Regions from separate parts of the Homo sapiens genome. Here region 2 is linked to region 1. Evidence: fine-mapped expression QTL. Tissue or cell type: naive CD8 T cells. Region 1 holds a variant in brackets; the other region holds the start of a gene. All regions are shown on one strand. Distances are between the middles of the regions.

Region 1 (8,095 bases):
GAGGAGGAGGTTGGCTGGGAGTCCCCTCTGAATAACAGGGTGGCGGGTAGGCATCTGCAGACCCAGACCTCAGCCACGGTGGTAAAAGCCTGTCAGCTCCCTCTGCCCCTTGGGTGATGAGCAGACCCCCACTGACTCACTGGGGGAAGTGGCTGCCAGGAAAGACAGCGGGGTTGGCCACTACTCACCAAGTGCAGGGCGGGTCTCAGGGGGCTGTGCTGTGAGTGCTGGGCCTCCCTCCGCAGGGTGCCAGCCCCGGCCTTTATCTCGCTGCTTCATGAGCTGATTAGGCGTCTCAGTGCCACCCTAATGAGATTGTTGGGCCCCGAGGGGGGGCACAACCACCAAGGTTCAGGGGATGGAGAGGAGGGGCTCAGGTGCTGTCAAGGGCTCCAAGGAAGGACACCCAGCAGATGGGGCCGGGACAGGGAGAGAAGTGTGACCCTGAACAGCCAGGCTCCTGCAGCTGCCCATCTTCCAGATGGAAGCAACCACAGTGTCTGCTGTCTTGGGCCTCCCTACTGCCTTTCCTGACCCTGCCTGATCTCTGAAGGGCCCACCTTCATGGTCCCCAAAACCCTCTGCAGCCTGGCCCTCACCCGCTGCTGTGGCCTCACATCTCACCCCTCCCACCCCAGGGCCTTTGCACCTGCTGCTCCTGAAACCAAACAAGGACCCCCCCCCGCCCTTAGGGGCCTGTGGGTCTTCCCAAGCACAGAAGCAAGGACAATGTTGAGTTCCTTCAAGGGCAAGCCAGGCCCCCAGCCAGCCCAGAGAAGGAAATGAGCAGCCGATCCACAGGAAGGTCACAAGAAGGTCACAGGAGCTTAGAACAACAGATGGAAGCCAGAGTCCCGAGAGTCTCCACAGAAGCAAACCATGCCATCTTAGCAGGTGCTCCTCAGTTGTTTTCCAGAAACAGGGACTCCCACCAAAGGGGCGTGCTGGCACACAGACCTCACATGAGCGGGAGCTGAGGACTGGCCTCTGACCACCCTTCTCTTACCTAAATTTCTTCCTGAGGGGCCTGGAGGAGGCTATGCCCATCCTGAGGGGCCTGGAGGAGGCCATGCCCACAACCCAGAGCTAACATTCTTTCCTGCGGATCCCAAAGTTTTAGACAAAGATTCGCTTCTGCACCAAATCAGAAAACCTTTGAATCCACCTATGACCCGTGGTCCCTGGCTTCAAGATCTCCTTGCTATTTATGGCAAAACCAGTGTACAACCTCCATGTACTGATTTATGACTTGCCTGTGACCTCTGCCTCTGCACCTTTAAAAACCCATAACTCAGGCCTGGTGTGGTGGCTCATGCCTGTAATCCCAGCACTTTGGGAGGCTGAGGCAGGTGGATCACAAGGTCAGGAGATCGAGACCATCCTTGCTAACATGGTGAAACCCCGACTCTACTAAAAATACAAAAAAATTAGCCGGGCGTGGTGGCATGTACCTGTAATCCCAGCTACTTGGGAGGCTGAGGCAGGAGAATGGCGTGAACCCGGGAGGCGGAGCTTGCAGTGAGCCGAGATCGCGCCACCGCACTAGAGCCTGGGCGACAGAGCGAGATTCTGTTTCAAATGAATAAATAAATAAATAAATAAATAAATAAAAACCCATAACTCGGCCGGGAGCAGTGGCTCTCAAACAGCGCTTTGGGAGGCTGAGGCAGGAGGATCACTTGAGGCCAGGAGTTCAAGACCAGCCTGGACAACATAGTGAGACCCCCCCATCTCTACAAAAAATAGAAAAAATTAGCTAGGTGCAGTGGCTCACTTCTTATTTTATTATTTCATTTTTGAGACTGAGTCTCGCTCTGTTGCCCAGGCTGGAGTGCAGTGGCCTGATCTCGGCTCACTGCAACCTCTGCCTCCTGAGTTCAAGTGATTCTCCTGCCTCGGCCTCCTGAGTAGCTGGGATTACAGGCTCCCACCACCACGCCCAGCTAATTTTTAATATTTTTAGTAGAGACAGGGTTTCACCATGTTAGCCAGGATGGTCTCAATCTCCTGACCTCGTGATCTGCCCACTTTGGCCTCCCGAAGTGCTGGGATTACAGGTGTGAGCCACCGTGCCTGGCCACAGTGGCTCACTTCTATAGACCCAGCTACTTGGGAGGCTGAGGCAGGAGGATCCCTTGAGCCTAGGAGCTCGAGGCTGCAGTGAGCCATGGTCAAACCACTCCAGCCTGGGGGACAGAGAGAGACCCTATCTCTGAAGAAATATGAAAATTTTGAAAAATTAAAAATAAAACCTGGACGGGCATGGTGGCTCACGCCTGTAATCTCAGCACTTTGGGAGGCCGAGGCAGGTGGATTACTTGAGATCAGGAGTTCAAGACCAGCCTGGCCAACATGGTGAAACCCTGTCTCTACTAAAAATACAAAAATTAGCTGGGCGTGGTGGCATGCACCTGTAGTCCCAGTTACTCAGGAGGCTGAGGCAGGAGAATCGCTTGAACCCAGGAGGTGGAGGTTGCAGTGAGCTGAGATTGCACCACTGCACTCCAGCCTGGGCAACAGTGAGACTCTGTCTCAAAAAATAATAATAAAAATATAAATAGTAAAATAAAATAAAATGTATGAGTACTCCTTTTTTGGTATCATGTATCACAGACAATATACAAAGACAATCACATGAAAATACATAAAGCTCCAAATAGACCTAAACAAAGACCCTATAGCCTTGATTGTAAAACTCTAGCCATGAGACTGGCAAAAATCACTAGTCCAGAAAGGACGGCTGGATTCAAGTTATGCTGCAATAAATGGAACAAGTCAAAAACCTCTTGTCCCACATGGCTCAATCCCTCACTCAGCCCCAGAGGAAACAAGATTGCAATCCATATCTTTTTTTTTTTTTTTTTTTTTTGAGAGACAGGATCTGGCTCTGTCACCTAGGCTGGAATGCAGAAGTGAAATATCGGTGGCTGCAGGAATTCAAGGCTGCAGAGAGCTATTATTGTACCATTGCACTTTAACCTGGGTGACAGAGCGAGACCTCAACTCTGAAATAGTAAAATAGGCCAGGCATGGTGGCTCATCCCTGTACTTTTGGAGGACGAGGTGGCTGGACCACCTGAGGTCAGGAGTTTGAGACCGGCCTGGGCAATATAGTGAAACCCCATCTCTACTAAAACTAAAAAAATTAGTGGGGCGTGGTGGCGGGCGCCTGTAGTCCCAGCTGCCAGGGAGGCTGCGGCAGGAGAATCATTTAAACCCGGGAGGCGGAGGTTGCAGTGAGCTGAGATGGCGCCACTGCACTCCAACCTGGGCGACAGAGGAAGACTTCATCTCAAAAATAAATAAATAATAAAAAAGAAATTAAACGGTGATGTGGAACACTCTTTAAATTGTCGTTCACCACATTTTCATATCTTCACAATAATGCAAAACACAGTCACTTGCAGAACCGGTTCTGATGACTTAAATACCAGGTACAATTTTAGCCCTCTACGTAATTGCTTGGAAGTTACTTATGTTTACATGAAATGAAACTATTAGGCCGGGCACATTGGCTCACGTCTGTAATCCCAGAACTTTGGGAGGCCAAGGTGGGCGGATCACCTGAGGTCAGGAGTTGGAGACCAGCCTGACCAACATGGAGAAGACCTGTCTCTACAAAAATACAAAATTAGCCGGGCGTGGTGGTGCATGCTTGTAATCCCAGCTACTCAGGAGGCTGAGGCAGGAGAATCGATTGAACCCAGCAGGCAGAGGTTGCAGTGAGCCAAGATCGTGCCATTGCACTTCAGCCTGGGCAACAAGAGCGAAACTTCATCTCAAAAAAAGAAAAGAAAAAAAGAAAAGAAACAAAATGAGACTATTAGGCTGGGCACGGTGGCTCACACCTGTAATCCAGCACTTTGGGAGGCTGAGGCAGGTGGATCAGCTGAGGCCAGGTGTTCGACACCAGCTTGGCCAACATGGCGAAACCCTGTCTCTACTAAAAATACAAAAAATTAGCCAGGCGTGGTGGCAGGTGCCTTAATCCTAGCTACTGGGGAGGCTGAGGCAGGAGAATTTTTTGAACTCGGTAAGTGGAGGTTGCAGTGAGCAGAGATTGTGCCATTGCTCTCTAGCCTGGGCGACAGAGACTCTGTCTCAAAACAAAAAAATGAAGCTATTAATACTTTTCTACAGCAGTAACTACACACAGGAAGACCAAGACAAGCACAAGTTAAGGAATGGAGCTTTCCCAAAGCGGCTGTGTATAAAGACTATAAACTGTTTTTTGTTTGTTTTTTGAGAACAAACAAACTCACTGCAGCCTTGACCTCCTCAGGCTCAAGCAATCCTGCCACATCAGCCTCCTGAGTAGCTGGGACTACAGGTGCTCACCACCACACCCGGCTAATTTTTGTATTTTTTGTAAAGATAGAGTCTCACTATGTTGCCCAGGGTGGTCTCAAACTCCTAGACTCAAGTGATCCGCCCGTCTCAGACTCCCACAGTGCTAGGATTACAGGCGTGAGCTGCCGTGCCCGGCCGGACATACGTAGTTTTTTGCCATGGCTTTTCTTGTGTTCTCTATCTACAGGCTAAGCAGATTCTGTGTGCTGCCCTGGGGTCTTTAATTACTTCAAGTGCTC[A/G]TGTTGAACTATGAATATGATTGTGTGTGTGATTGTTTTGTTTTTAGAGACAGGGGTCTCTGCCACCCAGGCTGGAGTGTAGTGAGGCAATCATGACTTACTTCCGTCTTGACTTCCTGGCCCAAGTGATCCTCCTGCCTCAGCCTCCCAAGTAGGTGGGATTACAGGCACACACCACCATGCCCAGCTAAGTTTTTAAAAATTGTTTTGTAGGCTGGGCATGGTAGCTCATACCTGTAATCACAGCACTTTGGAGGCCAAGGCAGGAGCCCAGGAGTTTACGACCAACTTGGGCAACGTAGGAAGACCCCCATCTCCACATACAGACACAGACAAAAAACAATGAACCGGGCATGGTGGCACTTGCCTGTAGTCCCAGCTACTTGGTAGGCTAAGATGGGAAGATCACTTCAGCCTTGGCGGTTGAGGCTGCAGTGAGCTATGCCTGATGGTGGCAGGAGGCAGTCGAATGCCTAGGCAGATACGGGCAGGTCCCCAGTGAAACCCCACCTTCAAGCCAAAGACAAAAAGCCTGAAAGCCAGCCAGGCACAGTGGCTCATGCCTGTAATCCCAGCACTTTGGAAGGCAGAGGTGGGTGGATCACCTGAGGTCAGGAGTTCGGGACCAGCCTGGCCAATATGGTGAAACCCCGTCTCTACTAAAAATACGAAAATTAGCCAGGCATGCCGGGTGCAGTGGCTCACGCCTGTAATCCCAGCACTTTGGGAGGCTGAGGCGGGTGAATCACAAGGTCAGGAGTTCAAGACCAACCCTGGCCAAGATGGTGAAAGCCCGTTGCTACTGAAACTACAAAAATTAGCCATGCGTGGTGGTGGGTGCCTGTAATCCCAGCTACTTGGGAGACTGAGGCAGGAGAATCGCTTGAACCTGGGCGGCAGAGGTTGCAGTGAGCCCGAGATTGCGCCACTGCACTCCAGCCTGCGACAGAGTGAGACTCTGTCTCAAAAAAAAAAAAAAAAAAAAAAATCAGCCGGGCATGGTGGCAGGTGCCTGTAATCCTAGGTACTCGGGAGGTTGAGGCAGGAGAATCACTTAATCCCGGGAGGCAGAGGTTGCAGTGAGCCAAGATCGCACCACTACACTCCAACCTGGGTGACAGGGCGAGACTCTGTCTCAAAAAAAAGAAAATCTTTAAATCTACCTATGACCTGGAAGCCCCCTCCCTTCAAGTTGTCCCTCCTTTCCTGACCAAACCAATGTACATATGATAGGTATTGATTGATGTATTATGTCTCCCTAAAAAGTATAAAAGCAACATGTGTCCACGTTGGGCACATGTTGCCAGGACCTCCTGAGGCTGTCACAGGCATGTCGTCAACCTTCGCAAAATAACCTTTCCAAACTTATTGACCACTAAAGAACTCATCCCTGTAACCAAAACCTGCCTGTTCCCCAAAAAGTATTGAAATAAAAAATAAATAAATTGGCCAGGCATGGTGGCTCACACCTGTAATCCTAGCACTTCAGGAGGCTGAGGTGGGCAGATGGCTTGAGGTCAGGAGTTGGAGACCTGCCTGACCAACATGGCAAAACCACGTCTCTACTAAAAATATAAAAATTAGCCAGACGCTGTGGGGCACGCCTGTAGTCCCAGCTACTTGGGAGACTGAGGCAGGAGAATCGCTTGAACCCGCGAGGTGGAGGTTGTGGTGAGCCGAGATCGCGCCACTGCACTGCAGCCTGGGCCACAGAGCAAAACTTCATCTCAAATAAATCAGTAAGTAGATTCATTGAGGCCTGTCTCAGATACTTTTGGTTTATAGCTCTCACTAACTAAACAACTCATGAAAACTAAGCAGTTGGCCGGGCACAGTGGCTCATGCCTGCAATCCCAGCACTTTACAGGGCCGAGGCAAGTGGATTACCTGAGCCTAGGAGTTCAAGACCAGCTGGGTGATATGGCGAAACCCCGTCTCTAGTAAAAATACAAAAAATTAGCTGGATGTGGTGGCACGCGCCTGTAGTCCCAGCTACTTGTGTGGCTGAGGCAGGAGAATGGCTTTGAACCCAGGAGGCGGAGGCTACAGAACTAAGCAGTCCGCGGACTTGCTTTGGGGATCCTGGGTACCAAAAATATGGACCTGGGTCTTTGGGCGACTTGGTGGGGAGTGGCATCCCACGAGCACAGGATGAGGAATCTTACTTCGGGAATTCTTGCTGAGAAAAGTGCGTCGGCAAGGCCGCCCAGCAGAGAGGAATTCATTCACCGGCTCAGGTTGTCTTAGATAATAGGGTAGCTGTAGATTACATCTTAGGTGAGCAGGGAGGACCACATAAGGTTGCAAATCCCACATCCTGTACTTACACACATGAATCTGCAAAGATTAAAAACCCATGTAGGTGACATTAGAGAACAGGCCACTTGGTTATGGCAGGTTTCCCTGACTGCCACTGAGAACTGTTTTCTTTCCTTGTTTTCTTAGATTTCTTATGGAATAATCCACATTTTCAGGATTGCTAAACTTAGGCATGTCAGCCTTGCTAATTTTTTTTTTTTTTTAGGCGGAGTCTCGCTCTGTCACCCAGGCTGGAGTGCAGTGGCGTGATCTCAGCTCACTGCAAGCTCCGCCTCTCGGCTTCACGCCATTCTTCTGCCTCAGCCTCCTGAGTAGCTGGGACTACAGGCGCCTGCCACCACGCCCAGCTAATTTTTGTATTTTTAGTAGAGACAGGGTTTCACCATGTTAGCCAGGATGGTCTCAATCTCCTGACCTCATGATCAGCCCGCCTTGGCCTCCCAAAGTGCTGGCTTTACAGGCGTGAGCCACCGCGCCTGGCCGGTTTTTTTTTTTTTTCTTTTTGAGATAGAGTCTTGCTCTGTCACCCAGGCTGCAGTGTAGTGGCATAATCTCAGCTGACTGCAACCTCTGCCTCCCAGGTTCAAGCAATTCTGCCTCAGCCTCTCGAGTATCTGGGACTACAGTTGTGTGCCACCATGCCCCACTAACTTTAGTATTTTTTTTTTTGAGATGGAGTCTTGCTTGCTGTCGCCCAGACTGGAGTGCAGTGGTGCCATCTCAGCTCACCGCAACCTCCACCTCTAGGTTCCAGCAATTCTCCTGCCTCAGCCTCCTGAGTAGGTGGGATTATAGGCACCCGCCACCGTGCCCAGCTAATTACTGTAATTTCAGTAGAGAAGGGGTTTCCCCACGTTTGGCCAGGCTGGTCTCAAACTCCTGATCTCAGGTGATCCACCCACCTAGGCCTCCCAAAATGCTGGGATTACAGGCGTGAGTCACCACGCCTGGCCACGTCCTGCTGCTCTTACCAACTCCCCTGGGAGCTGCGGCTGAAGGAGCTGGAAGGACTGGTTCCAGGTAGTGCTTGGGCCACTGAGGGCTGATCTGCAGCCCCTGCCAGGCTGGTGGAAGGGCACCCGAGGACCCCTGCCAGGGATTGATGGCAGCTGGACAGATGGGCACTTCCAGGCTGCCTGTGGGCTTCTGTGCCTGCCAAAGGCTTTGCCACAGTGACTCAATGAGAT
Region 2 (8,095 bases), 24 kb before region 1:
CCTCCCAGGTTCAGGCGATTCTCCTGTCTCAGCCTCCTGAGCAGCTGGGATTACAGGCGTGCACCACCAAGCCCAGCTAATTTTTGTATTTTTAGTAGAGACGGGGTTTCAACATGTTAGTCAATCTGGTCTTAAACGCCTACCTCAGGTGATCCACCTGCCTCAGCCTCCTAAAGTGCTGGGATTATAGGCATGAGCCACCAACCCTGGCCTAGCTGATTTTTTATAGTGAAACATTTCAATTCCCTTATTTCCTTTTTTATTTCTTTTTTTTTTTTCAGCTCTTGTTGCCCAGGCTGGAGTGCAATGGCGTGATCTCGGCTCACTGCAACCTCTGCCTCCCCGGTTCAAGTGATTCTCCTGTCTCAGCCTCCTGAGTATCTGGGATTACAAGTGCCTGCCACCACGCCTGGCTAATTTTTAGTATTTTTAGTAGAGATGGGATTTCACCACGTTGGCCAGGCTGGTCTCGAACTCCTGACCTCAAGTTATCCACCCACCTGGGCCTCCCAAAGTGCTGGGATTACAGGTGTGCACCACCACACCCGGCCTCCCTTATTTCCTTTTTCATAAATTCTATAACTATTTTCTGTGAGGTTACCACGAGTGTTACATTAAACATCCTCTTCAACCATTATGCAGATGAAAACTGTCACAAGCCATTGTCTAAAAAAGATTTCCACTGATACAGGACAAAACACCATAAAGGCTCAGTCTACTGGGATTTGTCCGCTTTTAGTAAAGTAACTAAGCCTAATCTAGATTTTCCTAAAATAGGATAACCCTGTCCTGCATTTTCCCATAACTTTCACTTGGCAGAAAAGGCTCCACCCAATATGTTCTCAACTTTTAAGTCAGGAGATTGAGACCATCCTGGCTAACACGGTGAAACCCCATCTCTACTAAAAATACAAAACATTAGCCAGGCGTGGTGGAGGGCGCCTGTAGTCCCAGCTACTTGGGAGGCTGAGGTAGGAGAATGGCGTGAACCCAGGAGGCAGAGCTTGTGGTGAGCAGATCGCGCCACTGCACTCCAGCCTGGGTGACAGAGCAAGACTCCGTCTCAAAAAAAAAAAAAAAAAGAAAAGAAATACAATTCTTTATACTTCTAACGTCTAGTATACTTCATTCTAGATTCAATACCCCAGAAAAACGTTTTCACAATATATAGCATTAGGTAAATACTTCCACTTATTTGTTTCTAAAATCTGTCTGCCAACACTTAGCTATCTTAAAAAGGAAAGCTCTGTTCTAATGAAGGGGAACATGTGAATGTTCCTTCAAACGATGACTCTGGAACAAGAGCATGTTACCGCCATTCTTTACAGAGCTAAATGGTTCAGGCTGCAGAATTCTAAGGTGAAGAAGTCATCCTACTTGATCCTCTACCACAGAAGATGGGAGTCCAGGTTTCCAAGGCCAACTCCAGTATTTAACAAGAGACAAACATAATTTGTACGATGGAAAGTTCTGGCCTAGCCTCTGACACAGACTACAAAATGAAATACACAGGAAGAGACAGACCTGACAACATGAACACACAGCCTCTTGGTAACTTAAGTTTCCCTATTTATAAGAAAATAAGACTAGAACGCTTCTTGGGGAAGTTGAAGAACTGGTGAGATACAGTTAAATCCACAGAAACTCTTTTCTCCCCCCAAGACAGAGTCTTGCTCTGTCACCCAGAGTGGGAGTGCGATGGCGCGACCTCGGTTCACTGCAACCTTTGCCTGCCGAGTTCAAGCAATTCTCTTGCCTCAAGCCTCCCAAGTAGCTGGGATTATAGGCGCCCGCCACCGCGCCCAGCTAATTTTTTTTTTTTTTTTAAGAGTCTCACTCTGTCACCCAGGCTGGAGTGCAGTGGTGCGATCTCGGCTCACTGCAATCTCCGCCTCCCGGGTTCTAACTTTTCTGCCTCAGCCTCCTGAGTGGCTGGGACTACAGGTGCACGCCACCACGCCCGGTTAATTTTTTGTATTTTTTTTTTTTAGTAGACGTGGGGTTTCACCGTGTTGCCCAGGCTGGTCTCAAACTCCTGAGCTCAGGCAATCCACCTGCCTCGGCCTTCCAAAGTGCTAGGATTACAAACGTGAGCCACCACGCCCTAATTTTTGTATTTTTAGTAAAGACGTGGTTTCACCATGTCGGCCAGGCTGGTCTCAACTCCTGACCTCATTATTCACCTGCCTCGGCCTCTCAAAGTGCTGGGATTACAGGTGTGAGCCACCATGCCCAGCCCAGAAACTTTTCAAAAGATCTCTTTCTTAAATTCAAAATAACTTTTTAAATCAATTTCAAAAGAAGAGTGTTTTAATTCCTCACAATCTGAGACATTCAACGAGATCCAATGCTGTCAATGAGAGCCTAGCCTTATACACTAGTGGGAAAAAAAAAATGGCCTTGTCTGAAACACTTTTCACTTGTCAATGGTTATTTTAACTCAGTTAAAAGTACAAAGGTAGTTTGAAAGAAGGTTTCAGTGCTAATTCCTAACCTATTTCTAGGCAAAGTCACCAATGATTAACACTTTTTTTTTTTTTTTTGAGACAGTCTTGCTCTGTCGCCCAGGCTGGAGTGCAGTGGCGCAATCTGGGCTCACTGCAACCTCCACCTCCCGGGTTTGAGCGATTCCCCTCCCTCAACCTCCAGAGTAGCTGGGATAACAGGTGCATGCCACCACACCCGGCTAATTTTTTATTTTTAGTAGAGACAGGGTTTCACCATGTTGGTCAGGCCAGTCTTGAACTCCTGACCTCGTGATCCGCCCACCTCGGCCTCCCAAAGTGCTGGGATTACAGGCGTGAGCCACTGCATGGCCACATTTTATTTTTCAAAGGAGTCAAAGGTTTCTTGGCCGGGCATGGTAGCTCAGGACTGTAATCCTAGCAATTTTGGGACCCCAAGGTAGGAGGATCCCTCGAGCTCAGAGACCAGCCTGTACAACATAGTAGAGACCTCATCTCTATAAAAAAATGTTTTTAATTAAAAAGATTTAAAGGCCAGGCGCGGTGGCTTATGCCTGTAATCCCAGCATTTTGGTATGCCAAGGCGGGCGGATCACGAGGTCAGAAGTTCGAGATCAACCTGGCCAACACGGTGAAACCCCATCACCACTAAAAATAAAAAAGACATCAGCCATGCGTGTTGGCGAGCACCTGCAACCCCAGCTACTCGGCTGAGGCAGGAGAATTTCTTGAACCCGAGAGGCGGAGGTTGCAGTAAGCAGAGATCGCACCACTGAACTCCAGCCTGGGCGACAGAGTGAGACTCCATCTCAAAAAAATAAAATAAGGTTAAAAAAAAAAAAAAAAAAGGAGTCGACGTTTCCTAAGTTTCTCCTGGGCCATATATTCATTCCACTCATCTCCAGGTTGGGAAACATGGAGGCACCAAGAGGGCCCCTGACTGGAGAGATGATGGAACCACCAGAGAACAGCCTTGCAAATAAGTGCTAGGTTCTCCTGGAGACCCATTTGTTTGTGTGTGTGAGACAGTCTCATTCTGTCGCCCAGGGTGGAGTCCAGTGACGCCACCTAGGCTCACTATGTTGTCCAGGCTGGTCTTGAACTCCTGACCTCAGGTGATCCACCCACCTGGGCTTCCCAAAGTGCTGGGATTACAGGTGTGAGTCACCGCGCCGGGCCTGGAGACCTATTCTAGACAACACCTGGCAAAACTGCAGAGACTGTCACAATGCTACAGTATGAACATTACTCTTCACCCAATACTGCTAAGCTTCCCCCAGAAATCCCAAATCTTCCTTAATATTAACCAAAATGCTCCTGTCCAATGGTCAGTTAGTTTTTTTCCCATCACATTTACTTTTGGGAAGAAACTTCTCACAACTTAACGAGGGACTGGTTTTCTGATTTGTCACTGATATTTTTTACGTTAAGGAGGAGTGTGTGACAATTTTTTTTTTTTTTTTGAGACGCAGTCTCGCTCTATAGCCCAGGCTGGAGTGCCATGGAGGGATCTCAGCTCACTGTAACCTCCACCTCCCGCGTTCAAGCAATTCTCCTGCCTCAGCCTCCCAAGTATCTGGGATTACAGTGCGCCATGACGCCCGGCTAATTTTTTGTATTTTTAGTAGAGACAAGATTTTGCCATGTTGGCCAGGATGGTCTCGAACTCCTGACCCCAGGTGATCCACCCGCCTCGGCCTCCCAAAGTGCTGACATCACAGGCGTGAGCCACTGCGCCGGGCCGACAATTTCAATTTCAGGTAAAAAGTGAAATCAACATCATTTACAACATTCCTTTTAAAGAGGAATTGTCAAGTTGTCCTTCCAAGTAAGGAGCAAAGCCGGCAAGTTACTGTGTTTTCATTTTCCCAGGTCTTCTGGTGGGGAGGGAGCTCTGTAACGTCCCCGTCTGCAGAGCTGCTCTCCTTAGTGACTCATGACAAGGCACTTGCTGGGAAGCGGGAGAGCAGGAGGAGAGAATCAGAGGGAGATTAGGATAAGAGGTGTCCCTGGCTCTGAGAGGGGCAGGACTGGCTGGGAGTCCCTGGAATTAGACCAGGAAGTCTCCTGGAGCCGGGAAACGGGTGGGGAAGGAGGGCGGTTTCTCTTCGCCACAGTCCATTCTCCCTGCTTAGAAAGGCTCGGCCTTTCCCTGCCCAGGGCGGGGAACCGGGGTCGTAAGTCCCCTGGGGAGGGACACGGACGGGAAGCAGCCGAGGGGGGTGAAAGTCCCCGAGAGGGGCCCAGCCACTACAGAGAAAGCCCTGGCGAGAGAAGAGAAAGGGGCCGAGTCGCGGCGCCGGCAGGCCCGCCTCCCCCACAGGCCGAGGCCGGCAAATCTGCTGCCTCATCCCGGCGTCCCCGCTCCCGCCCGGCCGCCGCACTCACGATGCTCTCGGCCATGGCGGCTGCTCCTGCCTCCGGGCTCGAGCCCCGGGCCGCCGCCGCCTGCCGCCCCAAGGGCCTCGCAGACCCGGCCGCGGCCTCAGCCCCGGCCCCGGCCTCCCTACGCCGCCGCCACCGCCGCTCCAGCTTCGCCCGCCCGGCTCCGCCAGCCGCCGACGTCCCGGTGCCTCGCTCAATACGCTCCCCTCGGGCGCGAGGCCGGGAAACCAGGTTCCGGCCCCACCAACGGCTCGACGCATGCGCAGGGCGGCGCCGCTGACCCGCCCCCGCCATCCCTGCAACTGGAGGAGGGGATTTTGGAAAGTTGCGTCTGAGATTACTTCTGCTCGTCCTCGGAAACCCAAGCGGCACAGGAAAGTCCAAAAAGGAAGCAAAGACGAGCATCCGAAGTCTCACCCAAAAATAACTACTGCTGCGTATTATAGCGTATTATAATTGGGGAAACAGCATTCCAAACTTCTCTCCATGCACAGGTAAGTAGAGAAACAATTTCAGGAAGGCAGGATCACACCTTCATGTTTTTTTTTTTAAGTATTTTTTAAATTTAACATAAGAAAAACAAACGAGTTTAAACTGCATTTCAGGCCGGGCGCGGTGGCTCATACCTGTAATCCCAGCATTTTGGGAAGCCAAGGTGGACGGATCACCTGAGGTCAAAAGTTCGAGACCAGCCTGGCCAAAATGGTGAAACCCCGTCTCTACTCAAAATACAAAATTAGGCCATACGCGGTGGCTCACGCCTGTAATCCCAGCACTTTGGGAGGCCGAGGCAGGTGGATCACCTGAGGTCAGGAGTTCAAGACCAGCCTGACCAACGTGGTGAAACCCCGTCTCTACTAAAAATACAAAAATTAACTGGGCGTGGTGGCGGGCACCTGTAATCCCAGCTACTCGGGAGTCTGAGGCCGGAGAATCTCTTGAAGCGAAGAGGCGGAGGTTAGAATGAACTGAGTTGGTGCCACTGCACTCCAGTCTGGGCGACAGAGTGAGACTTCATCTCAAAAAAAAAAAAAAAAGACGTCACTTCACAGATTCTAAGGATTTTTGGAGTTGGATACCAGGAAACCGGAAGACTAAATGTATACATATTTCACAACATCACAATTACTGTGACAGTTTTTTTAAACTATGTTAAATTACATTAATTGATTAAATTATGTTAGTAATTGTATTAGTTTGCTCAGGGTGCCACTGTAACTACCCAACATATTGTCCCTGCCCACTGCCTAGACTTTATCAAGACAGGGGAATTGCAATAAAGAGTTTAATTCACACAGAGCCAGCTTGTACAGGTTACTGAGGTTTTATTACTACTCAAAAAAAATTAGTGTCCTTGAGAATTCAGGGATCAGAGTTTTTTGTTTTTTGTTTTTTTTTGTTTTTGAGTCCGAATCTCACTCTGTCACCCACACTGGAGTGCAGTGGCGCGATCTCGGCTCACTGCAACCTTCACCTCCTGGGTTCCAGTGATTCTCCTGCCTCAGCCTCCCGGGTAGCTGGGACTACAGGCGCACACTACCATGCCTGGCTAATTTTGTATTTTTCGTAGAGACGGAGTTTCTCCATGTTGGTCAGGCTGGTCTTGAACTCCTGACCTCAGGTGATCCGCCCACCTGGGCCTCCCCAAAGTGCTGGGACTATAGACGTGAGCCACCGTGCCCGGCTGGGGATCCGCGGTTTTAAGGATAATTTGGTGGGTATGGGGTCAGAAAGTAGGGAGTGTTGATTGGTTGGGTCAGAGGTGAAATGATAGGGAGTCAAAACTGTCCTCTTGTGCTGAGTCGGTTCCTGGGTGGGGGCCACAAGATATGAGCCAGTTTATCAATCTGGGTGGTGCCAGCTGATCCATGGAGTGCAGAGTCTGCAAAATATCTCAAGCGCTGATCTGTTTTTTAATAGTGATGTTATCCTGAGAAGCAATTTGGGAGGTTTAGAATCTTGTAGCCTCCAGCTACATGACTCCTAAACCATAATTTCTAATCTTATGGCTAATTTGTTAGTCCTGAAAAGGCAGTCTTGTCCCCAGGTAGGAAGGGAGTTTGTTTTGCAAAGGGCTGTTACCATCTTTGTTTCAAAGCTAAACTATAAACTAAGCGCCTCCCGAAGTTATTTCAGCCTACACCCAGGAATGAACAAGGACAGCTTGGAGGTTAGAAGCAAGATGGGTTCAGTTAAGTCCGATCTCTTTAACTGTAATAATTATCTCAGTTATAAGAAAATATAACATAACAAAATCTCTCACAGACTGGGTGGTGGTTTGGAATTACTTTTCTTTTTTTTTTTTTTTTTTTTTGAGTCGGATCTCCCTCTGTCGCCCAGGTTGGAGTGCAATGGCGCGATCCCAGCTCACTGCAACCTCCGCCTCGTGGGTTCAAGCGATTCTCCTGCCTCAGCCTCCTGAGTAGCTGAGATTACAAGCGTGCGCTACCACGCCCGGCTAATTTTTATATCTTTAGTAGAGACAGGGTTTCACCATGTTGGTAAGGCTGGTCTCGATCTCCTGACCTCGTGATCCACCCGCCTCAGCCTCCCAAAGTGCTGGGATTATAGGCATGAGCCACCATGCCCGGCCTGGAATTACTTCCTAACAGTCCTGGAAGCTAGAATCCCAGATCAAGGTGTCAGTAGACGTGGTTTCTCCTTTGTTTTCTTCTTTTTTTTTTCTTTTAAGGCTGGGGTCTTGGCCGGGCGCGGTGGCTCACGCCTGTCATCCCAGCGCGGTGGCTCACGCCTGTCATCCCAGCACGGTGGCTCATGCCTGTCATCCCAGCGCGGTGGCTCACGCCTGTCATCCCAGCACTTTGAGAGGCCGAGGCAGGTGGATCACGAAGTCAGGAGATCGAGACCATCCTGGCTAATATGGTGAAACCCTGTCTCTATTAAAAATAAAAAAAAAATTAGCCGGGCGTGGTGGCGGGTGCCTGTAGTCCCAGCTACTCGGGAGGCTGAGGCAGGAGAATGGCGTGAACCCGGGAGGCAGAGCTTGCAGTGAGCCGAGATCACGCCACTGCGCTCCAGCCTGGGCGACAGAGCAAGACTCCGTCTCAAAAAAAAAAAAAAAAGAAAAGACTGGGGTCTCACTCCCATCGCCGAGGCTGGAGTGCAGTGGCACAATCGTGGCTCACTGTAGCCTCGACTTCCCAGGCTCAGGTGATACTCCCACCTCAGCCTCCTCAGTAGCTGGGACCACAAGTGCTCACAATCACACCTGGCTAACTTTTTGT

Which allele goes with the higher level. Positions count from the first base shown, and alleles are read on the strand shown. Sizes are in standard deviations (SD) of each study's normalised expression.
For the expression in naive CD8 T cells of the gene that starts at base 5,050 in region 2, allele A in region 1 goes with a lower level than allele G (large effect, 1.0 SD a copy in Schmiedel 2018).

Evidence for each region. PIP is the estimated chance that this variant, and not a neighbour inherited with it, causes the effect.
Region 2: it holds the start of NPLOC4, and the variant in region 1 is fine-mapped to the expression of NPLOC4 in naive CD8 T cells (Schmiedel 2018, PIP 0.95).

What each region holds. Positions count from the first base shown.
Region 1 is chr17:81,656,305-81,664,399 of GRCh38, forward strand. PDE6G (phosphodiesterase 6G) reads right to left here and starts at 238. Exons shown (of 4, transcript NM_002602.4): 1 at 189-238. RefSeq lists an enhancer at 7,177-7,811. The variant A/G (reference allele first, on the strand shown) is at 4,590.
Region 2 is chr17:81,632,063-81,640,157 of GRCh38, forward strand. NPLOC4 (NPL4 homolog, ubiquitin recognition factor) reads right to left here and starts at 5,050. Exons shown (of 17, transcript NM_017921.4): 1 at 4,854-5,050. The coding sequence starts at 4,868. It overlaps TSPAN10 (tetraspanin 10), which reads left to right and starts at 5,134. Exons shown (of 4, transcript NM_001290212.2): 1 at 5,134-5,344. RefSeq lists a silencer at 4,780-4,989.